Regions from separate parts of the Homo sapiens genome. Here all the other regions are linked to region 3. Evidence: fine-mapped expression QTL. A gene starts in region 3. Each other region holds a variant in brackets. All regions are shown on one strand. Distances are from middle to middle.

Region 1 (10,580 bases), 26 kb after region 3:
CGTGATTTGCTGACCTCTAGGAGTGAAGTGTTGTTTTATTGACTATAGTATTATCCTTCTACCTTGTTTTGTAGACTGGTCAAACAAATGGATTTTACAGAGGCTTACGCGGACACGTGCTCTACAGTTGGACTTGCTGCCAGGGAAGGCAATGTTAAAGTCTTAAGGAAACTGCTCAAAAAGGGCCGAAGTGTCGATGTTGCTGATAACAGGGGATGGATGCCAATTCATGAAGCAGCTTATCACAACTCTGTAGAATGTTTGCAAATGTTAATTAATGCAGGTAAAGTAAATTCAAGGTATGGAGGCTTTGCCTACAAGCTGGATTAATAAAACATAAAAAAGTATAATACATAACTTATTAACAGTAGTATTTGTTTCCCTTTCTATAGTCATAAAATAACTGCCTGAATTTATTTATTAAGGATAGTAAGATTGCCTGCCTTGGATTCAATTAGTATGATACTCTAGTTGGACATCTTATACGGAAGTGCCTCTGTCTGGCCTCTTTTTATTGACTGAGCTAGGTGATATGGGAGAAGTAGTCTGCTGTTTGAATTTAAGCATTTGGTAGTTACTGGTCATGTTTATTCTTTCTTCCTTTACCAAACAGAAAGAGCAATTGTACTGAAATTGAGGATGTGTTTTGATTGAATTAGTCTTTTTCTTTTTAAACACTTTTTAATACTTTTGGGAATTTTTACAACTACTTAGCATGAAACAAGATGCCTGCCTTCCTGATGCTTTTTCTTGTCAGAGGAAACAGATGACAAATATCTAAATAATTAAACAAGATAATTTAAAAAGGTAAAAGTGTTATGAAGAAAATAAAACAAAGTAGAGATAATAAAACAGATGGGATAGACAAAAATGGTGTGCTACTGCACATCTCTTTACATCTCTGCATTCAGTGACTTCATGCTTGGGATCGGCCATGGTAGGAGTATTTACACCACAGAAACAAGCCAGTGCTACAAACCAGTGCTATAAACTGGGCTTTCTTCCCTCTGGACAGCTAGTTATTAAATGTTAACCAGCACACTACTGAGTGAAGGTCATTGACTAAAGGCGAGATTCTGACATTTAGTATAGAGGGGGTAGGAAGAAAACAAATGGTGACTGAGCATTGCTTTGTGATAGTCATTGTGCCACATGCTCAATTTATCTTCTTTATCTAATATTTATAAAAATGGTGTTAGAGGCAGTATTATCCTCATTTTATTGGTGAAAAGACCAAGGCTCAGAGAAGTTGACTTGTAAAAGGTTACATAATAAACTAGGGTATTTGATTTGAACCCATTTCTCTGACTCTAAAGCCCTTTTTTTTCCTCTCATACCAAGCTTCTAACATTTAATTGAATGAATTTATAGCATTCAGTTAAAATGAGGTTGACTATAATACTCTGCATTGTAACACTCAGAACCAATTTCATTTCATTGATCGTGGAAATTCAGACCCTCTTTCCTGCATACTTGTCATCACCAGGTATAGGTCCTTAAAATATAAACTTCTGGGTCCATAGCCCATCAGAACTACTAATTTGTTACCTGCTGGACGGGAAAGGAAATAATCTTTACATTGTTTTTGGTAGTGGTAGGTGTTTTTTTTGTTGTTGTTGTTTTGTTTTTTTCTTTTTTTTGTCTTAACAGGTAAGAGATGGTAAGGCTAAACTTCCTAAATCATAATGCAGGAAATTTGTCATGATTGTTTTTAAAATCACATGTTCAAGTGTCTAGTGTCTATTATAGTTGAGTGTTTGAAGATAGTGGAAAAATAGATGTTATTCCTCTAATTTCAAACGCTTAAGATATGTTTTCAGAATCTGTTTGAAGTTAACTATAAAGCTTGAGTTCCCAAACTATTTTTAGTAACAAAGACATGAGTTTGAATATCCTTTTCTAGGCAAAAAGCTCATTTCCAATATACTGTTACATCTCTTCTTCATATCGGAATAGTGTAGTTTATGTTACAGATTTTTTTCATCTGCTGAGTAAACTTGGGCATGCTTTTGACTAAAGGCATTTGAACTGGCTGTTAAATTCATCTCTACAGTTGTCCTGCCATATCCACAGGGAATTGGTCCCAAAATGTCCACGGACACCAAAATTCATGGATGCTCCTCAAGTTCGGCAGTCTGCCCTGAAGATAGGAAAACGTCCTATACACACATACAAAAGGTCAGCCGTCTGTATCTGTGGGTTCCACATCCTACAAATGCTATTATCTTCCATCCCAGTTGGTTGAATCTGCAGGTGCAAAACCCGTGGATACAGAAGCCCGACTGTATTTCCTTTTTTTCTGAGACAGAGTCTTGCTCTGTTGCCCAGGTGGGAGTGCAGTGGTGCGACCTCAGCTCACCACCACCTCCACCTCCCAGATTCAAGCGGTTCTCCTGCCTCAGTCTCCCAAGTAGCTGGGACTACAGGTGCACACCACCAATGCCTGGCTAACTGTCTCACTTTGTTGCCGAGGCTGGTCTCAAACCCTTGGCTCAAGTGATCCTCCTGCCTTGGCTTCCCAAAGTGCTGGGATTACAGGTGTGATGCATCACACCTGCTGTCTTTTATTATATAATTTTCCTACCTCCCTGAGGTTTATCTAATATTAATACACTGTCAGAGATTCCTAAAAGATAATTAGTGCACCCAAATAAGAAGGTATGTAGGCCTACACAAATAAAATGGAAATATCTAAAATGATTAGAAGAGTTTTGCTTCACTGTCTCTTCAATTTAGATTTGGAATCCATTCTGAGTACCATACATGGTCTTCTGACTCAAGTTGGAGAAGAGCATTCAAGTGTGGTGTAGATTACATAGAAGTTTAATATGCATACATATTTTTGTATTTCTTATGTATCTCATTTTAGTTTTCTGTTTAACATATTAGCACAGATAACAAATTTGCTTGTCTTCTCTCCTGTATTGGAGGTTGGGTGTAATGGGTGTTGAGATTTTATGAAGCTTGTCATCCTGGAGGGCAGTAATGATCTTCACTGACAATTAATGCCATTCAATAATAAGTCATTTGCTGACTAAAAGTCCCTTAAAAATCTTATAATTATTAAGCATATAGCTAAAAAATACTTTTATTTGGCTAATAAATGATCTAGCTCATAGTATTTTTTATTAGTTCATGTTAAATAAGAAAATACGCACTAATACTGGGCACAGTAACAGATGCAGAAGTTCCTTAGACAAATAAATCATTGTAGCACAGCGATTAAGAGTTACGGTCAGATGGACCTGAATTCTAGTGACTCTACCATTTTATTGGTGTGACTTTGGACAGGTTTTTTAACCTCTAAGTGGTTTAGTTTTTTCATCTGTTAGATAGAAATATTCCATTGTTCCAGCTCAGGCCAGAAACTCTGGGCCATCATTAATTCCTTTCTTTTTCTCATATTTCTCATCTAGTCAGTCAGCAAATTTGTGTATGTGTATGTCTATATTTGTGTGTATGTATACACACACACACACACACACACAGTTAGATCACTTCTCACTACCATTAATACCTTGTCTGCGTTGCTATAATAGCATCTTAACAGATCTTCTCTATCTGCCATTGCTCCTTCTGCATCCTATGACAGACCACCCTCAATATATTAGAGGGATCATTTTAAAATGCAACAGACCAAGTCACTCTTCTGCTCTCTTGAGTGAAAACACTTTTGTGTAGTATTTCATGGTAGAGATGTAATGTAATTTATGTAACCATTCTTCTATTGATAGATATTTTGTTTGTTTCCTAAAGTTTTGCTGTTATAACTAGTGATTCAGTGAACATCCTTATGTATATATCTTTGTCTACATGGTTAACCATTTCTGTAGGATGGAGTTTTAGAAGTGCAATTACTGTTTGATAAGTTAGAGTTTCCTGGAGAAATAGAACCAATAGAATATATATAGATAGACAAGAGGGGATTTACTATGGGAATTGGCTAATGTAATTATGGGAGCTGAGAAGTCCCATCATATGCTCTCTGTAAGATGGAGAACCAGGAAAGCTGGTGGTGTAACTCACCCTAAGTCTGAAGGCCTGAGAACCAGGGGAAGTGATAGTGTAACTCTCAGTCTGAGGCCAAAGGACTGAGAACTGGGGTGTGGGAGGCCACTGGTATGAGTCCTGGAGTTTGAAGGCCTGAGGATCAGGATCTCCAGTATCCAAGGGCAGGAGAAGATGCATGTCCTAGTTCAAGAGAGAATGAATTCTCCTTCTGCCTTTTTTTTTTCATTTGCAGGATTAATAGAGTGAAAACAGAGCCCCCATACAACGGGAGGGGACCCAAAGGGGGTTGCTGCTCCCTGCTCGAATGCCTGAGTTTATATCCTGATCATTGTCCCTCCCTCTGTGCTCTCAGGCGATATATGATTTGACTATTTCTTTACCTCATGCTGTAGCCTAATTTGTATTTTAGTGAGCCCTCTTTACTACCTGATTGGTCAGGTGTGAGCTGAGTTACAAGCCCGGTGTTTAAAGGTAGGTGCGGTCACCTTTCCCAGCTAGGCTTAGGAATTCTTAGTCTGCCTAGGAAATCCAGCTAGTCCTGTCTCTCAGTCCCCCCTCTCAACAGTAAAACCCAAGTGCTGTTGGGGAGGTTGGCCGACGACTGCTCTTAAGTGCTTCCTGCTGTATTGGGGCATAGTAGGGGTCGTGCAGTTTAGATTTCATCAGGAGGAGTGCCTTCAATGTCATTAACATCGGAGCATGGGCTAGCAGGCTGTTCCAGGGGTCCACGGTAGATCTTAGTCATGGACTGCATCTGGGGTTCTATTTGAAGAACAATTTGTAATTTTACAGCTTTGATTCTGGAAGAGACAAACTTAACAAGGAGGTTAAAGATACAGGGATTGAAATGTAGGCCTGAAGTGCCAGGGATTATTTCTTCGGCACACTTCACAGATCCTGACTATCTGCTTGATAGTTTTGAAAAGGCCTGGTCTAGTAAATAATGATTTGGCCATCTGATGGGTGCTATCAATGCCTAAGTGAAAGGTCTAGTGAAGGGTTTTAAGTAATTTCCATTGGTTAGCTGCAGGCAAAAGTATTTTTCCTTCTTCAGTGGCTAGCCATCCTGAGGGGAAGAAGCTATGTACTCTTGAGGTTCCCCATTCTATTTCTTCTGCTGAGTACTGGGCCTTGGTTTCCTGGAGGGGATTACCCCATACTAGGGGTCCTTCTGTAAGCATTTCTAATGGAGGGTCCTACCTTGCAACTCTTTTGGCTTCAATATC[T/C]GCTTGGCGGTTCCCTTCTACTTCTTTTCTTTTCTTTCTGGTGACCCTGGCAGTGTAAAACTGCCACCTCTTTAGGTTTCTGTAGAGCCAAAAATAATCTCCTAATGTCTTCCTGATGTTTGATAGGTATTCCCTCGGAAGTTAGGAATTCCCTTTCTCTCCATATTGTTGCATGGGCATGGAGAGTTAGGTAAGCATACTTAGAGTCTTTATATATATTTACCCTTTTTCCTTCTCCTAATTCTAGTGTATAACGGCCCCTGCTTTTCCTAGGATGTCTCTCCCTAACAAAGGAGTGGGGCTTTCAGGCATAATTAGAAAGACATGTGAAAAGAGTAAAGTTCGCCAGTCACAACTTAGTGGCTGGGAGAAGTATATAGTGACTGCCTGTCCTAGGATCCCCTCAGATAGTGACAGATCTGGAGGACAGTTGTCCAGGACAGGAGAGTAAGACTGAGACAGCTGCGCCAGTGTCCAGGAGACAGTTAACCTCCTGGCCCTCAATGATCAAGCATACCCGGGGCTCTGTGAGGGTGATGGCGTGGGCTGGTGCTTGCCCCGGACACCCTCAGTCCTGCTGCTGTATCATCTGGTTAGTGGCTTCTGACTCAGAGGACCTTCGTCCCCTGGGGCAGTGGGCCTTCCAATGATTCCCTTGACATAAGGGGCATGGACGAGGGGGAGGCTTATTTCTATTCGGACAATCTTTTTTAAAGTGTCCTTGTAAACCATACTGGAAGCAATCCCTGTTAGGCATTCGATTTGCCCAGCCTTTCCCTGTTCCAGAGCCTTCAAAGTCCATTTGCCTGAAGACCATGACTAAAGTGGTGGCCTTTTTCTTATCCCGTTTATCCCGTTCTGCCTGCTCCTCCTGATCTTTATTATAAAAAACTGAGGTTGCCAAGTTCAGTAGGGTTTCTAAGTTTTGCTCCGGGCCTAAGGCGGACTTTTGAAGTTTTGTTCTAATGTCTGCAGCTGACTGAGTGATAAACTTATCCTTTAAGATTAGTTGGCCCTCAATAGAGTCATGCGACAGAGAGGTATGCTTTCTCAAAGCCTCCCTTAGTGTCTCCAGAAAGGCGGTAGGATTTTTCTTCCTTTTCCTGTGTTATAGTGGACATCATTGAATAATTCATAGTCTTCCTCCTAGTTTTCCTTAGCCTTCTTGCACGCAAGTTAGCAAATGTCTGCGGCACCAATCTCCATGTTCTGATTTTGCGTCCCAGTGAGGGTCTACACTGGGAACTGCCTCCTGGCCTGTGGAGAATTGTTCTCTTTCTTCTGTTGTCATCCTATCATTGACCTGACTGAGATACCAGAGATTGCCAAACTCTCTGGCTGCAGTTATGGTGGCACTTCTCTCTTTTGTGGTTAGCGTCTGATCTAGCAGCAACATTATATCTGTCTATGTCCGATAAAAGCATTGTTCTAACCCTTGTAAAACATCAATATAGCCATCAGGGTTATCTGATAATTTACCTAGGTCTATTTTAATTTGCTTCAAGTCTGACAGGGAAAAAGGTACATACACTCTGGGCCGAATTCTCCAGAATATATCTTAGGGGCGTTTTTGCCTTGTGGGGAACATGTCCCATCTGAAAAAAGAACATAGGGATGCCAGCACCTCTAGTCATTTTCCAATGAGCATTATCCCAGAGGACTAGAGCGTCCTCTGTGGTCCTAGTGCTTATTCCTTTCCAGGGTGTACAACTACCCATGGACCTCTGCTTATCGGATTAGTTACACTCACCAATGTAGCAGTCCTGCACCCCTTTTCCCACCTTTCTTGACCACAAAGAAAGGGGTCCGGGCTGCTGGATTCTAGTGGTCCTTTACCAGCATGCCCAATATTGCCTTTGCGCTCAAGGGTGAGTTCTAGAGCTGGGCTGGGTTCCTGAGTATTTTATAACAACCCAGCTGCCCCATCAAGATGCGTTCCCATAAACAACAGTTCTTATGCAAATTCTTTTCAGAGAGGGTGTAGGTAACCTTTTGAGTTAGGATTGAGGTAGAGTTTTTGCCCACTAGGGCCTTTGTCCTTTTCCCTTGTAGGAATACGCCCTAATTATCAATCTTAAACTTTTTGTTGCCCCGGATTAAGTCCTTGCCGGTATGAAATTTGAGAGATGGATCCTGTTTATCCCATGTGCCTTTTTCCGTGGGTTACTGGGTTAAGGATTTTTGATAGGAAGGCTATGTGTTGTCAGTGGTCTCAGTGTTTTCAGGCTACGCCCTTGTTTACACTGACAACAAGGTAGTATTGGAGTGTTATAGGGTCACAGAGAAGACCTTCAGTTATCAATTATAGGTTTTAAATTTACCCTGGCTTTTAAAGGAATAGGGTGCACTGTTTTTTCTTTACTACTTCTATCTCTCTTTTTCTCTCTCTCCCTCTCTTTTCTCTCTCTCTCTGTCTCTTCTCTCCTTGAGTTACTTAATTCGCTTTCATCCTGATCTATTATGTTGTCATAGACCCAGTTCCAGTTGTTAAAGTACTGGGTCATGAGTTTCAAGGCCCTGGCCAAGGAGCCAAGGCTTGGAGATTGTATTGCAGAGGGATAAGCTGGGTAAAAATCAGGGGAGGAGAGCATCTTACATGATGAGAGAGCAATCCTCCTAGCCATTTACAAACTTGGGGCCCTGGCAAGGGTGGTGGGGAATGGGTCCCACATAACTGCCCATGTTGAGAGCTGTATATCTAAACTGGGACACCAGGGACAAGATTCCCTGGGTTCATAGCCTAGGTACCTAAGGACACAGCATAGAACTTCCTTAGATCCCTTTGGAGATACAACTTGCTCTAATACTTGGGAGAGGAAATGAAGTCTGAACCATTAGTACCTAGGAGGCAGGGATCGGAGGAAGTAGATTCAGAAGTAAGGAGAATTTTGGGCTACACTTTCAAGAAAGTCATGGTCGGGACCCAGGAGGTATGGGTCAGAAGGAAAGGTAGGGGTGCATGCACGGGCGACTGTTGAGTAGAGACTTCGGCTGCGCCATGATCTCAACCAGCTAACGCCGGGAGTTCGGGACGACAGCTTTCTGCCTCTAGTCGGCCCTCGGCCTCCCCAGGAAAATTGAAAGCAGAAGCTGGTTCCAGGCAGACCAACGCTCCCAACCCAGAAGGGTTGGACGTTGTTAGAAAGCCCTTTCCCAGATAGCCTCACACCTGAGTCTTAAGTCTGGCAGCCACACTAATTATTTTTAACTGGCTGACAGGTGCCCGGTATTTTCCTCCAATTCTAAGGAAGGATAGGACAGAATAGCAAGTGAAAGTGGTCCAATATTACTCACCGCTTTTGAGGTCCCTTTGTGGTCACCAAAATGTTACTGGGGGGTCCTTGTTCTTAGAGCTCCTAAGATGGTGGTAGGCTGCTTCCAAGATGGTGGCAAGCCTCTTGTTCTCTGACCTCGGGTTCTTGACCTCACGGATTCCAAGGAATGGAATCTTGGGTCATGCGGTGAGTGTTACAGCTCTGTTCAGCTCGATTAGGATGAACCCCAGGCACTTAGCCTGTGCAGGAACAATGGTGAGCCTCTAGCCCGACTGGGAGTGGCAATGGGCGCCGCCTCGCTGGATCAGAAGTGCAGTGGACACCCTGCCAGATCGGAGGGGTAGAAGTCAACAGCGGGTCTGCGACGACGGTGATCAGCAGTGGTGGACGGTGAGTGAAAGCTCAGTTTGAACTGGAACAAACACGGACCAGAGAGTGTGCAGTTGCAAGATTTAATAGAGTGAAAACAGAGCTCCCATACAATGGGAGGGGACCCAAAGGGGGTTCCCTGCCTTTTTTTTCTTTTAGGTCCTTGAAGGATTACATGATGCCTGCCCACATTGGTGAGGGCAAGTCTTGTTTATTCAGTCTGCTGATTCAAATGGTAATGTCTTCCTGAAACATCTTCATGGATATACCCAGAAATGTTTTAGCAGCTATCTGGGCATCCCTTAACCCAGTCAAGTTGACATGTAAAATTAACCATCACCATGCCAAGTTAAAATATTTATAGATACTGCTAAATTGTATGCTATGTTAATCAGGATTCTTTCAGTACTGAGTGAAAGAAACCTAGTTCAAACTAGCTTAAGCAAAGAAAGGGAATATAGTAGCTCAAGTAAATGTAAATCTGAGTGATGGGTCTCTTCAGAGACTGCTGGATTCTACTATTAGAATGATGTCGTTAGACAGGCAGGATTTCCCTTTGGAAGTTCTAGACTTACCTTATTTTTATTTTTTTAATTAAAAAAATTTTTTTAAAGAGATGGGGTCTTACTCTGTTGCTCAAGCTGGAGTACAGTGGTGTGATCATGGCTCATTGCAGCCTCCAACTCTTGGGCTCAAGTGATCCTCCCATCTCAGTCTCTGGAATAACTGGGACCGCAGACATATGCCATCACATCAGGCTAATTTTTTTATTTTCTATATTTTGTAGAGGTGGGGGGGGGGTCTTACTATTTTGTCCAGGTTGGTCTCAAAACTCCTGGCCTCAAGTGATACTCCTTCCTTGGCCTCCCAAAGTGCTGGGATTACAGGCATGAGCCACTGCATTAGGCCTTGCCTTATCTTTAAAGAGCTCTTTATGTATTCTGGATATTAATCCTTCGGTGTTATATGTGTTTCGGGTATTTTCTCGTCACTTTTCTTAACAGTGTCTACTTTCTTTGTAATGCCTTTCAACCTCTTCCTCTTCACTGACTTCTTCCATGCATCTTGTGTGCATTATGAAGTCTCTGCTGAGGGTTGTCTGAGAAGTTTGCACATAATACAATTCCTTGCATTGTGGAAATTATTTTATATATAACCTTTTCTTATAATACCTAAATAAAACATAGTAAGATGATATAAATTGTGTAAATGGTGTGGCGATATAATCTTGACATTTATTACACTTGTGATTGGCACATAGTAAATTTGTCATCAAATTCTGGCTCAGCTGTTGAGAAATATTCTGGTCTTAATACTTAACCTATCTCCTCTACTGAAAACCTTGTGGTTTGACTTTCCCTGTTAGAGTTTGCAGAAAACAAAAAGAACGGTCTATCACCCATTACTACCACTTTTATAAGAAGTAATAGACAAGTTTATTATTCATAAGTAAAAAGACACTTTGTGTCAGTAAACATAGGGTGTGGTTCCATTGGCAGTGTTTGGGCCAACTCTTGTCATTGCTACACAGGCGTCAGTGGCTGGCATTGGTTCAGCTGAGGTGGCTCTAATTCTCCAAGTATTCCCAGGAAATAACTCACAAGTTGTGAAAGACCTGAAGTGCTCATTGTGTTTGTCCATTAAGAATGTCTTTAATACCCACACCATTTAAAGTTTCAATAAGTTGAGAAGGAGAAGC
Region 2 (10,580 bases), 65 kb after region 3:
GTGAGTTGTCTGTAATTTTTCCAACTTTTTCACCAGTAGTCTTTAAAGAAATTGGTTCCTTATTCTTTGTGATACTTTGAAATTGTCACTCAAAATAACGCATTAAAAAAAAAGTTAAGGTTTCTTTCTTGACTTAGTCTCTTTTCAGTTATAGTGTTTACTTCTTTCTGAAACTGACAGTGGGTGAAACATCTACCCTATAGAAATCATGAAGTTTCTAGTTTCTATCATGAGAAATTTCTGAAGGATCTATAGACTCTTTAATTTACCATTTGTGTTCTGTGTAGTTTTTGCGTACATAAAACTTTGGTTTATTCAAGGTGCATTTATGGAATATTCTTTTAAATAGAAGACAGCCTTTTCCGTCTTGATGATGATCTTTCCACCGAAATGTATTCTAGAAATTTAAAAAACTCTCATGGTCATGTAACAACATCATATGTAGCATATTTAATACATTATTTGCCAACAAGAAAAGTTTGGAGATGACTGCTATTTTCAAAATCTTCACAAAAAGTGAGGTTAGCTTTTAAAAATCTTTATACAATGGCGTATATATAATTTAATTAGATTTGTGATTTTATTTTATTTTTTATAATTTCAACTTTTATTTCAGATTCAGAGGGTATGCATGCAGGTTTGTTACATAGGTGTATTGCATGATGCTGAGGTTTGGGATATGAATGACCTCATCACTTAGACAGTGGGCATAGTACTCAACAGTTCGCTTTTCAGCCCTTGCCCTGTTCCCTGCCTCCCCTCTCTATTAGTCCCCAGTATCTGTTGTTGCTATCTTTATGTCCTTGAGTACCCAGTGTTTAGCCTCCACTTATAAGTAAGAACATGCAGTATTTGGTTTTTGTTAATTTGTTAATTCACTTAGAATAATGGCCTCCAGCTGCATCCATGTTGCTGAAAGGACATGATTTTATTCTTTTCTATGGCTGCGTAGTATTCCATGGTGTACATCTACTGTGTTTTCTTTATCTGATCCACCAGGTATCCATTGATGGGCACCTAGGTTGATTCCATGTCTTTGCTATTGTGAATGGTGCCGTGATGAACATGCAAGTGCATGTATATTTTTGTTGAATGATTTATTTTCTTTTGGATATATACCCAGTGATGGAATTGCTGGGTTGAATGGTAGTTTTAAGTTCTTTGAGAAATTTCCAAACTGCTTTCCACTGTGGCTGAACTAATTTACATTCCCACCAAGAATGTATAAGCGTTCCCCTTTGTCTGCAACCTCTCTAGCATCTGTTGTTTTTTGACTTTTTAGTAATAGCCTTTCTGAGTGGTATAAGATTATATCTCATTGTGGTTTTGATTTGCATTTCTGTGGTGATTGGTGATGTTGAGCAATTCTTCATGTGTTTGTTGGCTGCTTCTATGTCTTCTTTTGAGAAGTATCTTTTCATGTCTTTTGCCCAATTTTTTTTTTTTTTTGAAATGGAGTCTTGCTATGTTGCCCAGGATGGCGTACAGTGGCACTATCTCTGCTCACTGCAACCTCTGCCTCCTGGGTTCAAGTGATTCTCCTGCCTCAGCCTCCCAAGTAGCTGGGACTACAGGCACGTGCCACCATGCCTGGCTAATTTTTTGTATTTTTAGTAGAGATGGGGTTTTCACCGTGTTAGCCAGGATGGTCTTGATCTCCTCACCTCGTGATCCACCCGCCTTGGCCTCCAAAGTGCTGAGATTACAGGCGTGAGCCAATGTGCCCAGTCCTTTTGCCCAGTTCTTAATGGGGTTGTTTTTTGCTTGTTGAATTGTTTAAGTTCCTTATAGATTCTAGATATTGGACAAAGTTAAGATAAAGACCTTTGTGTAATATCCAGAATCTATAAAGATACCTAGTTAGCAAATATTTTCTCCTATTCTGTGGGTTGTCTGTGGATTCTTCTGTTTTACAGAAGCTAAAGAGCTTAATTAATCTAAAGAGATTAATTAGGTCCCACTTACCAATTTTTGTTTTTGTTGCAATTGCTTTTGAGAACTTAGTCATAAATTCTTTCTCAGGGCCGATGTCCAGAACAGTGTTTTCTCATTTTTTTTTCTAACTAGGATTTTTATAGTTTGAGGTCTTACATTTAAACTTTTAATCCATCTTGAGTTGATTTTTGTATATAGTGAAAGATAGGGTTCCAGTTTCATTCTTCTACATGTAGCTAGCCAGCTATACTAGCACCGTTTATTGAATAAGGAGTCTCTAACTCATTGCTTATTTTTGTCAACTTTGTCAAAGATCAGATGGCTGTAGGTGCATGGCTGTATTTCTGGATTCTCTATTCTATTCCATTGGTCTTTGTGTCTGTTTTTGTACCAGGACCATGCTGTTTTGGTTACTGTAGCCTTAAAGTAGAGTTTGAAATTGGGTAATGTGATACCTCCAGCTTTATTCTTTTTGCTTGGTATTGCTTTGGCTATTTGTGCCCTTTTTTGGTTCCATATGAATTTAAGAAATTTTTTTTCTAATTCTGTAAAAAATGGTGTCGGTAGTTTGATAGGAATAGCATTGAAGCATAAAAATGACACTTCAGGGACTCAGGGAAAGGATGGGAAGGGGGTGAGGGATAAAAGATCACAAATTGGGTGCAGTGTATACTGCTTGGGTGATGAGTGCACCAGAATCTCACAAATCACCACTAAAGAACTTTCTCATGTAACCAAACACTACCTGTTCCCCAATAACTTATGAAAATCAAAAACAAAAAACTCTGACATTTAACAGGGGAAAAAATAAAAAAAGGAATAGTGTTGAATCTATAGATTGCTTTGGGCAGTATGGGTATTTTTTAAAATGATATTGATTTTTGCAATCCGTGAGCAGCGTTTTCCGTTTGTTTGTGTCATCTATGATTTTTTTTCAGTAGTATTTTGTAGTTCTCCTTGTAGAGATCTTTCACCTCCTTGGTAAGATGTATTCCCAGGTTTAAAATTTTTTTTTGGTGGCTGTTATAAATGGAGTTGTGTTCTTGATTTGGCTGTCAGCTTGAACATTGTTGATGTATAGAAATGCTGCTGATTTTATACATTGATTTTGTAACCTGAAATTTTACTGAAGTTGTTTATCAGCTTCAGGAGCCTTTTTGTGGAGTCTGCAGGGTTTTCTTGGTATAGAATCATATTGTCAGAGAAGAGAGATTGTTTGACTTCTTCTTTTCCTATTTGGATGCCTTTTATTTCTTTCTCTTGCCTGATTGTTCTGGCAAGGACTTTCAGTACTATGTTGAATAGGAGTGGTAAGAGTGGGTATCCTTGTCTTCTTCCATTTCTCTAGGAGAATGCTTCCAGCTTTTGCCTGTTCAGTATGATGTTGGCTGTGGGTTGGTCATAGATGATTCTTATTAAGATACATTCCTTCAATGCCTAGTTTGTTGAGGGTTTTGTTTTGTTTGTTTTGTTTTTATCATGAAGGGATGTTGGGTTTTATGAAGGCTTTTCTCACATCTGTTGAGATGATCATATAGTTTTGGTTTTTAATTTTCTTTACGTGGTGAATCCCAATTATTCATTTGCATATATGGAACCAACCTTGTTTCTCAACAATGAAGCCTACTTGATCATGATGCATTAACTTTTTGATGTGTTGCTGGATTTAATTTGCTAATATTTTGTTGAGAATTTTTGTATCTATGTTCGTCAGCACTATTGGCCTGTACTTTTCTTTCTTCATTGTGTCTTTGCCAGATTTTTGTATTAGGGTGATGCTGGCTTTGTAGAACAAGTTAGGGAGGAGTCTCTCCTCCTTGATTTTTGGGAATGGTTTCAGTAGAATTGGTACTGGTTTTTCTTTGTATGTCTGGTAGAATTCGGCTGTGAATTCATGTGGTCCAGGACTTTTGGTTGGTAGGTTTTTTTTTTTTTTATTATGGATTCAGTTTTGGAACTTGATATTGGTCTATTTCAATTTCTTTCTGATTCAGTCTTGAGAGATTGTGTGATTTATCCATTTCCTCTAGATTTTCTCATTTGCGTGCATTGAGGTGTTCGTAATAGTCTCAGAGGATCTTGTGTATTTTTGTAGAATCTATTGTAATGTCAACTTTGTTGTTTCAGATTGTGCTTATTTGGACCTTCGCTCTTTTTTTTATCTAGCTAGCAGTCTGTCAATTTTGTTTATCCTTTCAAAGAACCAACTTTTGGTTTCATTGATCCTTTGTATGGATTTTTGGGTCTCAATTTCATTCAGTTCCACTCTGATTTTAATTATTTTTTTTCTTCTAATAGCTTTGGGGTTAGTTTGTTCTGTTTTTTCTTATTCCTCGAAGTGTGATATTGGATCATTAATTTGAGATCTTTCTTTCTGAGCTAGATGTTTAGCATTATAAACTTCTTAACACTTTTTGCTGCATTTTAATATGTTCTGTGTCTGTTTTTATTTATTTCAAAGAATTTTTTGATTTCTGCCATAATTTTATTGTTTACTTAAAAGTTATCCAAGAGCAAGTTTGTTTGTTTGTTTGTTTGATTTTGAGACAGAGTCTCACTCTATCGCCAGGCTGGAGTGCAGTGGCACCATCTAGGCTCACCGCAACCTCCGCCTCCCAGGTTCAAGCAATTCTCCTGCCTCAGTCTCCTGAGTAGCTGGGACTATAGGCACACACCACTATGTCTGGCTAATTTTTTTTTTTTTTTTTTTTTTTGTAGTTTAGTAGAGATGGGGTTTCACCACATTTCCAGGCTGGTCTCGAACTCTTGAGCTCAGGCAATCTGCCTGCCTTGGCCTCCCAAAATGCTAGGATTACAGGCGTGAACCACTGTGCCCAGCCAAGAGCAAGTTAATTTCTATGTAATTGTGTGGTTTTGGAAGATCTTCTTGGTATTGATTTCTATTTTTATTCTACTGTGGTCTGAGAGTATGGTTGGTATTAATTCAGTTTATTTATTTATTTATTTATTTATTTATTTATTTATTTATATTTCTGGAGACAGGGTCTTGCTCTGTACCCAGACTGGAGTGCAGTGGCATGATCTTGGCTCACTGCAACCTCCCCCTCCTGGTTCAAGCAATTCTCCTGCCTCAGCCTCCTGAGTACCTGGGATTACAGGCGCGCACCCCTGTGGCCAGCTAATTTTTTTGTATTTTTAGTAGAGATGGGGTTTCATCGTGTTGGCCAATTTGGTCTCAAACTCCTGACCTTCAAGTGATCTGCCCATCTCGGCCTCACAAGTGAATCAGTTTTTTAAATTTATTGAGATGTGCTTTTTGGCCGAGCATGTG[G/T]TCTGTCTTGGAGTATGTTATATGTGCTGTTGAGAAGAATATATATTCTGTGGTTGATGAGTGGAGTGTTCTTTAGATGTGTATTAGGTCCAATTGGTCAAATGTTGAATTTACACCCAGAATTTGTTTTTTAATTTTCTGCCTCAGTGATCTGTCTAATGCTGTCAATGGGATTTGACATCTCCCAACATTATTGCTATCTCTATAGATCTCTAAGAGCTTGTTTTATGAAACTGGATGCTTCAATGTTGGGTGTGTGTATATTTAGGATAGTTAAGTCTTCTCATTGAATTGAACCCTTTATCATTATGTAATTACCTTCTTTGTCCTTTTGTACTGTTGTTGGTTTTTTTATATATAATTTTTTCTTGAATAGAAATGGGGTCTCACTGTGTTGCTGTGAACCCCAAATATCTGAGAGAGATCTCAGTCAATTTAGGAAGTTTATTTTGCCAACATTAAGGGCATGTGCCTGTGACACAGCCTCAGGAGGTCCTGGCAACATATGCCCAAAGTGGTTGGGGCACAACTTGGTTTTATACGTTTTATACATGAGACATCAATCAACATATATAAGATATACATTGGTTCTGTCTGGAAAAGCGGGACAACTCAAAGTGGGGAGAGTATGTCCAGGTCATAGGTAGGTAGGAGACAAATGGTTGCCTTTTTTTTTTTTTTTGAGTTTCTGATTAGCCTTTCCAAAGGAGGCACTCAGATATGCACTTATCCCAGTGAGCAGAGGGATGACTTTGAGTTTGAGTTCTGTCTGTCCTTCGTCCACAGGGAAATTCCTTGTGAGGGAGGTACGTAACTTTTTCTAATCTTAGTAGCTATTTTTTAGGAATAGAATAGGAGGCAGGGTTGCGCTAAGCAGTTCCCAGCTTGACTTTTCCCTTTGGCTTAGTGATTGTGGGGGTCCCAAGATTTATTTTCCTTTCACATTGCCCTGGCTGGTCTTGAACTCCTGAGCTCAAGCGATCCTCCCCCCTTGTAAGAGTTAAAGAAAGAGGAAAGAAACACAAAAGATGGGTTGGCAGTTAAAGACAGGTTTACTTTAGATAAAACCTGAGAAGGGTTTCTGGCTGATTTCGATCAGGAGCACTTTCTCTTACAGGCTAAGTACATGAGTATATATTGGTTTTAGGGTGAGGGGGCTTATCACAAGCTTGGAGTGTTTATGTGTGGGGGAGAAGTTTATGGTGAGGTTGGAATGTCTCTGGGTGAAGGGGGGATTATCTTGGGGCTGACGTCTTTCTAGAAGGAAGGGAGTTATCTCGGGGCTGGCATCTTCCCAGCCAGAGCAGGGCAGCTAGCATGTCTCTGGTCGCAGAGGAGTTTGGCATGTTCCTGGTCGGAGATGCTTTTTTTGTTTATGATCATGCTGATCTTAGCCATTTAGGCTGATGCGCTTTGGATTTAGGAAGTTTTTGATTAAGGTGAATTGGAAAATAACAGTGCTTGTGCAAGATGGTGATACTCCTGCTCTGTCATACTTCGGCCTCTCAAAGCTCTGGGCTTATAGGCGTGAGCCACTGTGCCTGGCTCTGTTGTCTGATTTAAAGTCTGTTTTATCTGATATAAGAATATTGACCCCTGGTTGGGCGTGGTGGCTCACGCCTGTAATCCCAGCACTTTGGGAGGCCGAGGTGGGTGGATCACGAGGTCAAGAGATCAAGACCATCCTGGCCAACATGGTGAAACCCCGTCTCTATCTGCTAAAAATACAAAAATCAGCTGGGCGTGGTAGTGCATGCCTGTAGTCCCAGCTACTCGGGAGGCTGAGGCAGGAGAATTGCTTGAACCCAGGAGGCAGAGGTTGCAGTAAGCCGAGATCGCACCATTGCACTCCAGCCTGGCGACACGGCGAGACTCAGTCTCAAAAATAAAATAAAATAAAATAAAAAACTAGTGACCCCTGACCTTTTTTGTTTTCCATTTGGTTGATAAATCTTTTTTCAACCCTTTACTTTGAGCCTATGGGTGTTGTTACATGTGAGACGTGTCTCTTGAAGGCAGCAGATGGATGGGTCTTTTTTCTTTCTTTTTTTTTTTTTAATCCAAATTGCAGCTGTGTGCCTTTTAGGCAGGATGTTTCGTAAAAGGCGAAAGATTTGTATGATCTGAAGAGACCCTTTACATTCAAGGTTAATATTGATATGTGAGGTTTTGATCCTATTATTAAGTTGGTAGATGGTTGCTTTGCAGTTTCTATTGTATGATTGTATTATGGGGTCTTTGGGCTATGTACTTCAGTGTGTTTTTGTGGTATCAGTGTTGTTCTTTCATTTCCATGTTTAAAAGTCCCTTAAGGATCTCTGCTAAGACTGGTCTAGTGGTAACAAATTGTCTTATCGCTTGCTTGTCTGTAAAATATTTTATTTCTCCTTCGTTTGTGAAGCTTAGTTTGGTGGAATATGAAATTCTTGGTTGTAGTGTCCTCTCTTTAAGAATGCTGAAAATAGACCCCCAATCTCTCTTGCCTTGTAAGGTTTCTGCTGAGAAGTCCACTGTTCCTTTTGTATGTGATCTGACGTTTTTCTCTAGCTGCCTGTAAGATTTTTTCTTTAGTGTTAACCTTCAACAGTCTGGTGACTGTATGCCATGGTGATATTCACGTTCACAGAGAGTTCTCTGTATTGCTTCTATCTGGATGTCTTCCTCTCTGGCAAGATTAGGGAAATTTTCTTAAATTATGTCCTCAAATATGTTTTCCAGGTCATTTACTTTTTCTCCTTCTCTCTCAGGAATACCAATAATTCATAGATTTGGTTGCTTTACATTATCAAATATTTCTCAAAGCCTTTTTCATTAAAAATTTTTTATTTTTATTTTTATCTGACTGGGTTAGTTTGAAAGACTGATCTTCAAGCTCCAAAATTCTTCCTTCTGCTTGGCCTAGTCTATTAATAAAACTTGCAGTTATATTTTGAAATTCCTTAAGTGAGTTTTTCAATTCCAGAAGCTCTGATTGATTCCTTTTTAAGATGTTTATCTTAAGATGCCTTCATTTCCTGAATTGCTTTAGAAGTTTCTTTGTGTTTATTTTCAACCTTGTCTGGATCTTGTTGAGCTTCCTTGCAATCCTTGCTTTGAATTCTTTATCTGTCATTTCTGAGTTTCCATTTGGGTCAGGAACCATTGCGGGAACACGACTGTGATCCTTCAGTGGTGTCACTATATTTAGATTTTTCACAAATCCAAAATTCTTGGGGTAGTTCCTTTTCATCTGGAGATGTTCACACTTCTAATTTTTGTAATTATTTTCATGCAGGTGGGATTTTTTTCTTTTTCTTTCTTTCACTATAATATTATTGTTTTTCCCTTTCACATTTATGATTTTAAATATCAACTCAGAAACCTGTTGAAAGAGACCCTTTTTCTCTGATTGTAGGCATTATTTATCATGCAGTGGTTATGAAGAAAGAGATGTAATAGAGAGTATAGTCAATATTAGTTTTAAGGCGTGGCTCCCATATATGTCATATCTACTGATAATTTTTCATAAATCTTAGCCTGAATCAATTAGTGGCATAATTTGGATTTTATCTTTTTCAGCAGTTATCAGAAATATTATCCATGTTTGATAGTTTGCATTTTTCTTTTTAAATGTTTACTTATTGGGCCCCAGAATGCTTGTTGGAGGAGGGATTGGAATGAAATGTATCCTTCATTGAATAGGATTTTTGTTTTAGCTTAAAAATGAATTCTAAGATATGAATCACTTGTTTTCTTGCTGACGTAGAGGCAAGACCTTTTTATTTTTGATAGAGACAGGGTCTCACTATGTTGCCCAGGCTGGTCTCAAACACGTGGCCTCAAGCAATCCTCTGGCCACAGCTTCCTAAATTGCTGGGATTCCAGGCATGAGCTACCCTGTCAGTTTAGCGAAGACAATTTAAATGATTACCAAGAAGTTAGCAAAGTAAATATGTTTATATAACAACATCCAACATTCAGTGAAGAGGGAAAAGCTTACCGTGCTACGAAACCCTTTTATGGTAGTTCCTTTGAAATTTGTGTTGATTTTTTTAAGTATTAGGGTTATCTGTTAAATGTTTTATTTTGTACCCTTAGGTGCAAATGTCAATTGTCAAGCCTTGGACAAAGCTACACCCTTGTTCATTGCTGCTCAAGAGGGACACACAAAATGTGTGGAGCTTTTGCTCTCCAGTGGGGCAGATCCTGATCTTTACTGTAATGAGGACAGTTGGCAGTTACCTATTCATGCAGCTGCACAAATGGGCCATACAAAGTAAGTGTTAAAAACAGAAAATAAACATGGTCTCTTAATCAAAAGCTAATAAAGAATAAATCTGGGCTAGACCCTTCACCTCTAGGCAAAGTCTTTGATATTCTCTTCCCTACCAATCTGCTGGGTGAACAGATCTACCCCTAATCTGTCCTTCATGCTGTCTTTTGCTCCTACTATTCCTGCACTTTCATATTGTGAGGCAGAATTGCTACAGACTGGGTAGGCTCAGGGACTTTCTCGGGGTGTTGACTCTTCCCATTGATTTCTCTAGTTATGGCTGTATCCGCCGCCTCCTCCTCCCTAGTTTTATCCCAGGCATCTTTAAGCATCAATCTGATGAGGCCATCCATGTTACCTCTCTGACCCCAGAAAGCTTTTGAGTTTGTGATGCCTGTTGGAGTGTGTGCTAAGTAGTCCTCCCTGTCTTAAACCCTTTGACTGAACTTTTCTTGATCTAACCTCAAATTGGAGAGAGAGTAAATGGGGGTTCCAGGAATCTTAGAAGCTAGTAACTTGGTTATACCTGTGAGAATATGGCTACCTATCATAAATTGGCAGTCAATGATTTTTAGAAATATATGTGAGAATATGGCTACCTATCATAAATTGGCAGTCAATAATTTTTAGAAATACATGTTTAGAATCTTTAGAGCCATAATTCTATAATAGCACTTTTTATAGCTGCTATTAGTATTATTTAATTTAAAAAGTAATAGTAAAATATTCATTACTTAATTTAGTTTGTTTACATAGTAGGAAAACAGATTCTGCAATTTGGTCATTATGCCACTAGGTGACACAGTACTTTACTATTTCATTAATGATATTTGTAAGCATGTTTATGTCTTGTGGGAGAGTATAATTTTTCCCACCTACTTAAAAAAATTAAACACATTTATTAAAGTTAAGAGACATTAGACTATTTTAACAAAATACTTAGATTTAAAAATTTGATATTTTCCCCAATTCTTGATCATTTATTTAAACATAAGTGTTAGATATTGTACTCTGAACTTTAAATGGTACCAAAACTCTCCTGGGCATTTGTTCTCAATTTTGAGAATTCTCATTGTCACTGATGATTTTCTTTATAGCCTA
Region 3 (10,217 bases):
GAGGCTATAAAATACACTTGTTGGTAGAACCTGTCAATGTATATGACATGCTATAAACCATGGAGTTGGTCAAATAGTAGTGCTTGGGAAAATCTGAGTAAAATATATTCTACATCAACAACAGAAGTAGACAGAAAATTAGACTGATTTGTGGTTTAATTTGGTGAAATCTCTGAACTCTATAAAGTAATGAATAATTAAACATAACGACAGAGGTGATACTTCAGAAGGAAAATATTAACACAAAAACAAAACTGAGTGCTAAACATCAATAAGCAAAGAATATCATAATTATTAACTCTAGTTAATGTACACATCAAAAATACACAAATTTTTTGGCCAGGTGAGGTGGCTCATGCCTATAATCCCAGCGCTTTAAGAGGCTGAGACCAGAGGATAGTTTTGACCAGGAGTTTGAAACCAGCATGAGCAACATAGGGAAACTATCTCTACCAAAACACACAAACAACCCCCATTTTACAGTTTTGGTGCTTAATACTTTTTCTAAGCAAATCTGAAAGCAAGATTGTAAATAATTATATATTGTTTTGATATATCTGAATGGGAAGACAATTTAAAGCAGACAATTTTAAAGCTTAAAAAATTCAGATCTTCTAATCCAGTCTCTTCCAATTTCAGTTAGTAAACAGACAAAGGACCTTATCCTATTTCATACAGCTGCATATTAGTTAGATACAAATGTCCAACCCGCGGCCAGGCACGGTGGCTCATGCCTGTAATCCCAGCACTTTGGGAGGCCGAGGTGGGCGGATCACTTGAGTTCAGGAGTTTGAGACCAGCCTGGCCAAAATGGTGAAACCTCATCTCTACTAAAAATACAAAAAAAAATTAGCCAGGTGTGGTAGCGCACGCTTACAATCCCAGCTACTGGGGAGGCTGGGCAACAAGAATCGCTTGAACCCGGGAGGCAGAAGTTGCAGTAAGCTGAGATGGCGCCATTGTACTCTAGCCTGGGTGACAGAGCGAGACTCTGTCACAAACACAAATGTCCAACCAACTGGCCCATTAAAAAAAATGGCAGCGCCAGGTGAGGAGAGTAGTGGTTTCTTTTCTTTTCTTTTTTTTTTTTTTTTGAGACAGACTCCTCTGTCGCCCAGGATGGAGTGCAGTGGCATGATCTCGGATCACTGCAACTTCTGCCTCCAAGGTTCAAGCGATTCTCCTGCCTCAGCCTCCCAAGTAGCTGGAACTACAGACATGTGCCACCATGCCCGGCTAATTTTTTTATTTTTAGTAGAGACAAGGTTTCGCCATGTTGCCTAGGCTAGTCTCAAACTCCTGGGCTCAAGTAATCCACCCAGCTCGGCCTCCCAAAATGTTGGGATTATAGGCGTCAGCCACTGTGCCCAGCCAGTAATTTCAGTTAAATGCAAAGGGAAGCCTTAAGGTTATAGAAGTATTAAAAAAAATCAAAAGACCAATGATAATGACTATTGTGGCTTATTTTTACATAAAGGACATAGGCCTTGTGACAATTCACAGAACACTCTAGATTTTTCTCAAAGTAGCACAGACTTAAAGAAAAAAAAGCCAGATGCAATGGTGACCACCTGTAGTCCTCGCTGTTCAGGAGGCTGAGGCAGAAGGATGGCTTGAGCCCAGGAGTTTGAGGCTGTAGTGAGCATAATCATGCCTATAAATACCTACTGCACTCCAGCTTCTAAAAAAAGAATTTTTTTTTTTTTTTTTTTTTTTGAGACAGAGTCTCACTCTGTCACCCAGGCTGGAGTGCAGTGGTGCAATCTTGGCTCAGTGCAACCTCCACCTCCCGGGTTTAAGCGATTCTCCTGCCTCGGCCTCCCAAGTAGCTGGGAGCACTGGTGTGCACCACCACGCCCAGCTAATTTTTGTGTTTTTAGTAGAGATGGGGTTTCACCACGTTGGTCAGGCTTGTCTTGAATTCCTGACCTCATAATCCGCCTGCCTCTGCCTCCCAAAGTGCTGGGATTACAGATGTGAGCCGCCGCACATGGCCAAAGCATTTTTTTTTTGAAATAAAATTGTTAGATACGTGAAAAGTTGGTGTAGCAAATGCTAAGACTGAAAGAAAATGGAATGACAATTTGGTAGTGACCTCTAAAAATGCTAGTTTTAGTCGCTCGCTTATAGTAAGTTTTCAGGGCTGCATATCAGCAAGTTTTTTTAAATTAAAAAAAACACAGGTGCCAAGAGTAAAAAATTTTAATGACATAATTCTTCAAACATCTGCCATATTCACTCCAAGTGTGCTCTTTGGATACAACAACAGGTATTAAAGTATTCTCTTCCAAGCCTGCTAAAGTTATATCTGATTCATAACAAAATTTTACATAGGTATTTCAATGTATCAATATTTTGTGGCATTAATACAAAGAGAAATTTGACGTCCCAGAAAAATATTTACCTAGATAAATTCAGAACATTTGGTTCACACATGTAATCCCAGTATTCTGGGAGGCTCAGGCACGAGGATTGCTTGAGCCCAGGAGTTCGAGACCAGCCTAGGCAACATAGTGAGACCCTGCCTCTAGAAAAAAAAAAAAAAATTAGCCAGGAGTGGTGGGATTTCCCTATAGTCCCAGCTACTGGGAAGCTGAGGAGATCTCTTGAGCCCAGGAGGTCGAGGCTGCAGCCAGTGGTGACCGTACCACTGCACTTCAGAATGGGCAACAGACTGAGACCCTGTCTCAAAAAACAAACAAAAACAGAAAAACCCAAACCAAACCAAACCAAACCAAAAAACCCCTAACACTTGCAAATAGAAAGCTATGTGGTAATAACATCCATTAACTTGACACATCTTGTTTTGACATCATAGTGTCACTTACTGTTTCAATGAAATGGTAATGAAAGAATATAATAAAGTATTGCAAGTTGAATGCTTGAAGGTAATTGGAATAAAAAGTTTAAAAAAATTTTGCTTTTTCCGGGACTTCAATTTGAAGTAAATGAGTTAATTACTACATGGTAAGTGTCATAAGAGTACAATATTTATTAGCCTGCAGTAGGTACACGTGGACAGGAAGACTTTTCAGCGGTCCACTCCCCCAAGAGGGAATTTTCATTTCCGCGAGGTTACAAATGTTCTTCACTACAGGAAAACTCAACATAGAAGCTCATGTTCTGGGGACTCAAATAACAGTCGTAATACATGAAAACTGTAAAGGATATTCTGCATAAAGGGTCGTTAACATCTCACAGGCCAAATAGCCCTCTCAGAAACAACTAGGAAAGGAAAAAGTTCCCTTGGAGCTGTGCGTTTGCGTATGTCCGTGTGTGTATACAACTGAGGGAGAACGAATACGAGAGAGGGAACTCGAGTCTGAAGTACTGTGGTGTGGGCAGGGTGACATGTAATACTGAAGGAAAGAAGTCTGCTGGTGAAGTAAGAGCCACAGTTAATTTTCCGAAAGGAAGATGAGTAAGTGCACCTGACGTTATTCTACGAAAGCTGCTTCTGCAGGGTGGGAATGTTGGGAAGCAAGGTCTAGTGCGACAGAATTGAAAAGGTGGAGAGCAGGTGATTGCTGGATCCCTAATGCTCAGCAAGGGGGACGCATCCACATAACGTGAGAACGAACGAATGAATGAACGCTGCATAAAAGCAGCTTTGGCTTGGGGAAGGTAAGAGTCTGCAGAGAAGGTCTTGGGGAGAAAAAGCAAAGAAAACCGAGGGAAGAGGCCGAACCCTTAGTGTCAGGAGGAGGGGTGGCTGCGGGGTTAGTGAGGGCACTGACCAGAGAGAACTCGGTGCCGGGCCAGTTGACTCGGAAAGGGATGTCATCGCTGAGTTGAGGAAGGGCTCGGCCGCCGCCGGACGCCTCCAGGAGGCCGCAGAGGACCAGTAACACCGGCCCGCCCGGGACCAGACTCCGTACGCCGCCGCCTCCTTCCTCCATCCTCCGCCGCCGCTTTCTCCAGCCACCGCCACAACCTCCTCTGCTCCAGGAGGAGAGGAGGAGGAGGAGGAGGTGGAGGAGGAGGCGGCGGGACTATAAAGCGCCCGGGTATCACCGGCCCAACCGCCGCCACGTCTCCTTCCGGAGAGCCCGGCAACGCCGCCTCCGCCCCCTTGAGCCTCCTGTCACCGTTTCCGGGGCAGACGACATATCAACATCCGGGGGTCGCGGAGCCGTCCGCCTACGGGGGCCGGGACGTCGCCTGCGCGTCTCTCGTTTTCGGACGGCTGCAGCATCGCGGTGGGGATCGAAAGCGGGGGCTTCTGGGACGCAGCTCTGGAGACGCGGCCTCGGACCAGCCATTTCGGTGTAGAAGTGGCAGCACGGCAGGTCGGTGAGTCTCGGAGGCGGCAGCCGCTTCCTGAAGCCATTCCCGCTGCTCTCCAGTGGGCAGGCAGAGGTTTGACCCACACGGAGTGATAGCGGGAAGAAGACAGTGTGAACCGTGCGGGTGCGGGTCCTTAGATGAGAAAATTCGAAGTAGCGATGAGATGTGAGAAATGGCGGTGTTCCTGACTGACCTGCCTTCTTGCAGCTTTTCTTCTTTTTCTCCGCATTTGGCATTTGTACACTTCATTTTTCCCGCTTGAGGCTTATCTCCATCTCTTCTGCTGTGGACCGTGGCCATCTCGTTACTTAACAGCTTCTGACTAACGCAGGGCAGTTTGTTCAGCGACTGCAACTCTGTGTTAGGGGAAACCTGGGGTGAGGTAGCCCGCCATCTCCCCGTAGGTGAATACCGCAAGCCTCCGAATTTGGCGTGGTGGGCGACTCTCGTGGAATGGGCAGCTAGACATCACAACCCTACATTTTTACCCTCCATCTCTAGATTGAAGTGTTGGGGTGTTGTTTTATCAAGGAAGCTGGTAAGGTTCCTTATGTGAGGTTTAGCGCCAGATGAATGTGTGTGTTTATGAACTAAGTCACGTCTGACTGCATCCCCAAATTAGACAAAAAGTTTTGTTTTTCCCTCCCCCTCTTTAGAAAAAATGCCATTGTCTGTTTTGATCTCCAATATAATGGACATAGAGTGTTGGCTTTAGAGAAATTACCATTCCCTAAAGCTCGACAGTCTTGCTAGATCTGTTAAAGACTGGTCGCCCCCACTTCCTCAGATTTGAACCAAATCAAAAAGCAGGAAGGACAGTCCCATATTCTATCTTAAAAATTTTTTTTTAACATCAGGAATCCATAGTATCAAAGAAGATAACTTTCTTCAGAATTGTTATTCGCTAATTATATTCAGCACTTCTTATTAATGCTTAATGTGATCCAGACTCCTGGGATTTTTGTTGTTGTTGTTTGTTTTGAGACAAAGTCTCGCTCTGTCACCCAGGCTGGAGTGCAGAGGCATAATCTTGGCTCACTGCAACCTCCGCCTCTGGAGTTCAAGGGATTCTCCTTTTTCTCAGCCTTCCGAGTAGTTGGGATTACAGGCGCGCGCCGCTACACCCTAATTTTTGTATTTTTAGTAGAGGCAGGGTTTCACCACGTTGGCCAGGCTGGTCTCGAACTCCTGACCTCGGGTGATCCGCCCTCCTCGGCCTTCCAAAGTGCTGGGATTACAGGCCTGAGCCACTGTGCCTGGCCCCCCTGGGCTTGGTAAAATGCCAAATAAATGGGTTTCTGTCTTTGGTCACACAGTCTAGGCAGGGAGATTGTACAAACAAATAATTGCAAACTATTATAGTAGTAATAGTCAATTTTTTTTTTTTTTAGCATTTATTCTGTGCTAAGCACTAGTCTTAAGTCATGAAGGAAAAGAGATGTATTTGACGGAATAAAAATGAAAACTGTCTGTGAGGTCCTGTTTTAGCATTTAGGGCTATAGTGATTGAATCTGTGTTCAATAGAGCTGATGTTCAAGTAAGAGGGGAACTTAAATAAGTAAAATAATTTCTAGTATTGGTAAGTGCTGCAAAGAAACTAAGGTTATGTGAAAGACAATACCTGTAGGATGTGTTGCTTTTAGTACGTAAGTCAGAGGAGACTTCTGTGAGGAAGTGACATTTGAATTGTGACTTGAATGATGAAAAGAAGGGAGCCAGACAAATTTCTAGGCAGAGGCCCTGAGGCAGGAATGAGCTTGATGTGTTGGAGTGATAGAAAGAAGGCCAGTGTGGCTGGAGTGTAAGAGGAAAGTGGTAGAAGAAGTTTGAGAAGCAGAAAGAGGCCAGGGAGACAGCTCTGTAGGCAGGAGAGTGGACAGGACCCGATGTACATTTGTGAAGATCATTGTGGCTGCTGTGTGGAAAATTGATTGTAGGGGGTGTTGTGGGTTGAATTGTGTTCCCCAAAAAGACATGTTTAAGTCCTATCCCCTAGAACCTGTGAGTGTGAACTACTTGGGATAGGGTCTTTGCAAATATAATTCAAGTAAGGATGAGGTCATACTGAATCAAAGGGGGCCCTAATCTGGTGACTGGTATCTTTATAAGAAGAGGGAAATTTGGATACACATGGACACACAGGGAGAATGCCATGCCAGGAAGGAGGAGGCAGCAAGATTGCAGTATGTGTCTATAAGACAAGGAATGCTAAAGATTGCCAGTAATCACCACAAGCTAGGAAGAGGCAAGGAAGAATCCTTCTTTAGAGCTTTCAGAGAGAGAGAATAGCCCTGCTGACATCTTGATTTCTGACCTCTAGTTTCTAGAATTGTGAGACAATCAATTTATGCTGTCTAAGCTGCTCAGTTTGTGGTCATTTGTTACAGCAGCCTCAGGAAGGTAATAGAGGATGAAAACCAAAAAGTAGTTGAGACAAGTCTCAACCAGTTTAGAAGTTTATTTTGCCAAGGTTAAGGACGTGTCACAGACAGCCTCAGGAGGTCCTGACAGCATGTGCCCAAAGTGGTCGGGCTACACTTGGGTTTTACACATTTTAAGGAGCCACAGGACATCAATCAGTACAAGTCTTTTATGCTTTATTTATAGGTTGATTCTTAAACATTGAAAACTTATCAACTATTTACCATATTGTAATTATACAATCATCATTCGCTATAAAACTATTAAGTATGATTGCATCTGCAGAGAAAAAATGTAATTCTACCTCTGCCAATTAAGGTATCCTATTAGCTTCCTAATAATGGCACCATGTTTGCTAAAATAAACTCATTTTGCTCCTGAAGCTGTATTTCCAGCTCTCACACATGTAATTTAGACTAGTTGCTTTACAAGTCAGTTGCATACCTGTTTACTGAGATTTTTTTGTATCATGCCTGGGTTAGGTCTACTGCTTTATGTATTCCATGTCCTCATTTGTCATAGATTTTTTTCCCACCTTGTAGGGGTATAACTAATTTCAAGCAATTTTTTTCAGGAAGGATTAAACAGGTAATTTAATTTCCACAGACTTCATATGTCTGAAAATGCCTTTACCTTGCCTGCTCATTTAATGATAGCTTGGGAATAGACTTAGTCCACAATCATTTTGTTTTCTTCAAAACTCTGAAGACATTCTCTTGCTTTTTGTGTCTAGTGTATCTGATGACAAGTCTAATGCCAGTCTCTTTCTTTTGCAGGTATCATACTTTTTTCTCTGGAAGATTTTATTAGACTGTTTTCTTTATCATTGGTTCTGTGATATTTTATCAGTGTTTCTAGGTGGTGAATCTTTTTTCATTCATCCTTCTTGGCACTCTATGAATCCTATTTTTCACTTCTGGGAAATTTTCTTCAATTATTTCTTTAATTATGTTCTTGACATTTTCTCTGTTCTATTCAGAATTTAGATAGGTTCTTCCAAATACATTTAGATAGATTCTTCCAAATACAGAGGAAAAATATAAAAAGAAAAAATACATAATACGAAGGATCAATCCAAGAGGTCCATTTCCTTGATTTTCAGTTCTTTTCACTTTCTTTTTTCAGTGGTTTTTTCCCCACAGTTTCTAGTCATCTAGTTATTTTTAATGGATGCATTGTTCTCATGACATGAATTTCTTTGAGGATAACACTTATAACTTTTAAATATTTATGTCCCATTCCCGGAAATAGCTCTGCTTCTTTCAGGTCAGTTGTTTATTTTCATCCTTTCTGTCTGTTGTGCTTTTACTTCAAAAAAAAAAATTCTTGGCGGGGCATAGTGGCTCACACCGGTAATTCCAGCACTTTGAGAGATCACCTGAGGTCTGGAAGGTCAAGACCAGCCTGGCCAACATGGTGAAACCCTGTCTCTCCGAAAATAAAAAAATTAGCCGGAAGTCTTGGCAGGCTTCTGTAATCCCAGCTACTCAAGAGGCTGGGGCAGGAGAATCACTTAAACCTGGGAGGCGGAGGTTGCAGTGAGCCGAGATTGCGCCATTGCACTCCAGCCTGGATGACAAAAGTGAAACTTCATCTAAAAAAAAAAAAATTATTGAGCTCTTTTGTAAGTGAGCAGGGTACTAGCTGTTGGGTCTAACTTTAGGGTCCTTGAGTGAAGTGCAAGAAACGAGTTGCCTCTTTCCTCCTCTCCTTCCACCCTGTACCCAAATAAGGAATGCTTTGTTATGGAACATGAAGATGCTCAAAGGCTTCCAGGGTAGACTGTTAAATTAAAAAGAGCAATAACAACAAAATAGATGTGGTTTTAGCCAGAAACAAATACTGTTGCTGCCAGGCGTTTTGTGTGTAAAGGGCTGTGGTAAAAAGTTTGGCTTGCTGTTTCATATAAATATTATAATAATTCTGATTTTAGTCCTACGTCCTTCCTCTGCTTGTTTCTAAGATTGGTACCTCTCCAGGCTCTGCTGGCAAGAATGTCTTCTACATTGCTATAGCCTTCTCATGTATGCATGTGTGTGTGTTCTGGACTGCAGTTTTCTCTGCACTGGCTTAATCCTCAGCATAATCCTACCTGCTTTCTCTTCCAGAATGAATGAGTGCATTTCAGTGCGATTTTGTTAGGAAGCGGAGGAAAATGTATGTGCTTAGTTTGCCTTGCATAGAGTGAGTAATCCATTGTTTTTTTGTTTGTTTGTTTGTTTTTGAGACAGGGTCTCGCTTTGTCACCCGGGCTAGAGTGCAGTTGCATGATCACTGCTCACTGCCATCCCAACCTCTGGGGCTCAAGCGATCCTCCCATCACCTCAGCCTCCTGAGTAGCTGGGACTACAGGTGTGCACCAGCCTGCCTAGCTAATTTTTTTATTTTTTGAATTCTTGGTTTCCCAGAGTGTTGGGATTACAGATGTGAGCCATGGCACCCAGCCAGTACTTGTTGAATAAATCAATGCTGTTGAAAAAATTGGGCAAGGCATACTGTTGTTTAAAAAGAAAATTATGGCTGTAGGAGATAAGTAATTAGGTGAATCTTTTAAATCCTGTTTTAAAAAGTCCTATTTTATTTTGTCCTAATTAAAAAAGAATCTCCGCCGGGCGTGGTGGCTCACGCCTGTAATCCCAGCACTTTGGGAGGCTGAGGCAGGCGGATCACCTGAGGTTGGGAATTCAAGACCAGCCTGACCAACCTGGAGAAACCCTGTCTCTCCTGAAAATAGAAAATTAGACAGGCGTGGTGGCTCATGCCTGTAATCTCAGCTACTCTGGAGGCTGAAGCAGGAGAATCACTTGAACCTGGGAGGCAGACATTGTGGTGAGCCAAGATGGCGCCATTGTACTCCAGACTGGGCAACAAGAGTGAAACTCTGTCTCAAAAGAAAAAAAAAATGGAAAGAATCTCAAAGGGGTTAAGCCCTACCAATGGAGGTACAAAATGAGATAACTACCATCTCTCACTTTTTTTTTTTTTTTTGGAGACAGAGTCTCACTTTGTTGCCTAGACTAGAGTGCAATGGCATGGTTTTGGCTCATTGTAGCCTCAACCTCCTGGGCTAAAGTGATCCTCCCACCTCAGCCTTCTCAGTAGCTGGAACTACAGGTGTGCACCACCACGCCTGGCTAATTTTTTTTGTATTTTTTGTAAGAGATAGGGTTTTGCCATGTTGCCCAGGCTGGTCTTGAACTCCTGGGCTCAAGTGATTTGCCCCCTCAAGCCTCCCAAAGTGCTGGGATTACAGGTGTGAGCCACTTGCCCGGCTTCCTTTTTTGTTCTTTTTAAAATTGTAGGCCTTAATTTCATTTTGTTCCTGTTCAGTGCTTAGCACAGTTCCTGGCATGTTGTAAATGTTCAATAAATGATACTACATTTGTTTTACTTAAGCAATTTTCATCATCGTAGAAAATAAGGATTAAATGAGTTAATATACATAAAGCACTTGGAATAGAATCTAGCATATAGTTAGTGCTACATAAGTGTTAACCATTATTCTCTG

Which allele goes with the higher level. Alleles are on the strand shown, and positions count from the first base shown. SD is a standard deviation of normalised expression in the study named. Not every link is listed here.
For the expression in lymphoblastoid cells of the gene that starts at base 4,157 in region 3, T is the low allele of the variant in region 1 and C is the other (moderate effect, 0.44 SD a copy in GEUVADIS).

The links. PIP is the estimated chance that this variant, and not a neighbour inherited with it, causes the effect.
Region 1: its variant is the best candidate, but not a certain one, in a credible set for the expression of ASB3 in lymphoblastoid cells (GEUVADIS, PIP 0.65).
Region 2: its variant is the best candidate, but not a certain one, in a credible set for the expression of ASB3 in whole blood (TOPMed, PIP 0.69).

Annotation. Positions count from the first base shown.
Region 1 is chr2:53,755,080-53,765,659 of GRCh38, reverse strand. It overlaps ASB3 (ankyrin repeat and SOCS box containing 3), which reads left to right. Exons shown (of 10, transcript NM_016115.5): 2 at 75-283. The coding sequence starts at 88. It overlaps GPR75-ASB3 (GPR75-ASB3 readthrough), which reads left to right. Exons shown (of 10, transcript NM_001164165.2): 2 at 75-283. Among named protein-coding and RNA genes, the nearest start is that of CHAC2, 7.4 kb to the left of the region's middle. The variant T/C (reference allele first, on the strand shown) is at 5,238.
Region 2 is chr2:53,715,468-53,726,047 of GRCh38, reverse strand. ASB3 (ankyrin repeat and SOCS box containing 3) reads left to right here. Exons shown (of 10, transcript NM_016115.5): 6 at 9,305-9,482. It overlaps GPR75-ASB3 (GPR75-ASB3 readthrough), which reads left to right. Exons shown (of 10, transcript NM_001164165.2): 6 at 9,305-9,482. Among named protein-coding and RNA genes, the nearest start is that of CHAC2, 47 kb to the left of the region's middle. The variant G/T (reference allele first, on the strand shown) is at 5,228.
Region 3 is chr2:53,780,893-53,791,109 of GRCh38, reverse strand. It overlaps ASB3 (ankyrin repeat and SOCS box containing 3), which reads left to right and starts at 4,157. Exons shown (of 10, transcript NM_016115.5): 1 at 4,157-4,289. All of the region lies in intron 1 of GPR75-ASB3 (GPR75-ASB3 readthrough), which reads left to right. ERLEC1 (endoplasmic reticulum lectin 1) reads right to left here and starts at 4,066. Exons shown (of 14, transcript NM_015701.5): 1 at 3,738-4,066. The coding sequence starts at 3,899. RefSeq lists enhancers at 4,074-4,493, 4,009-4,667.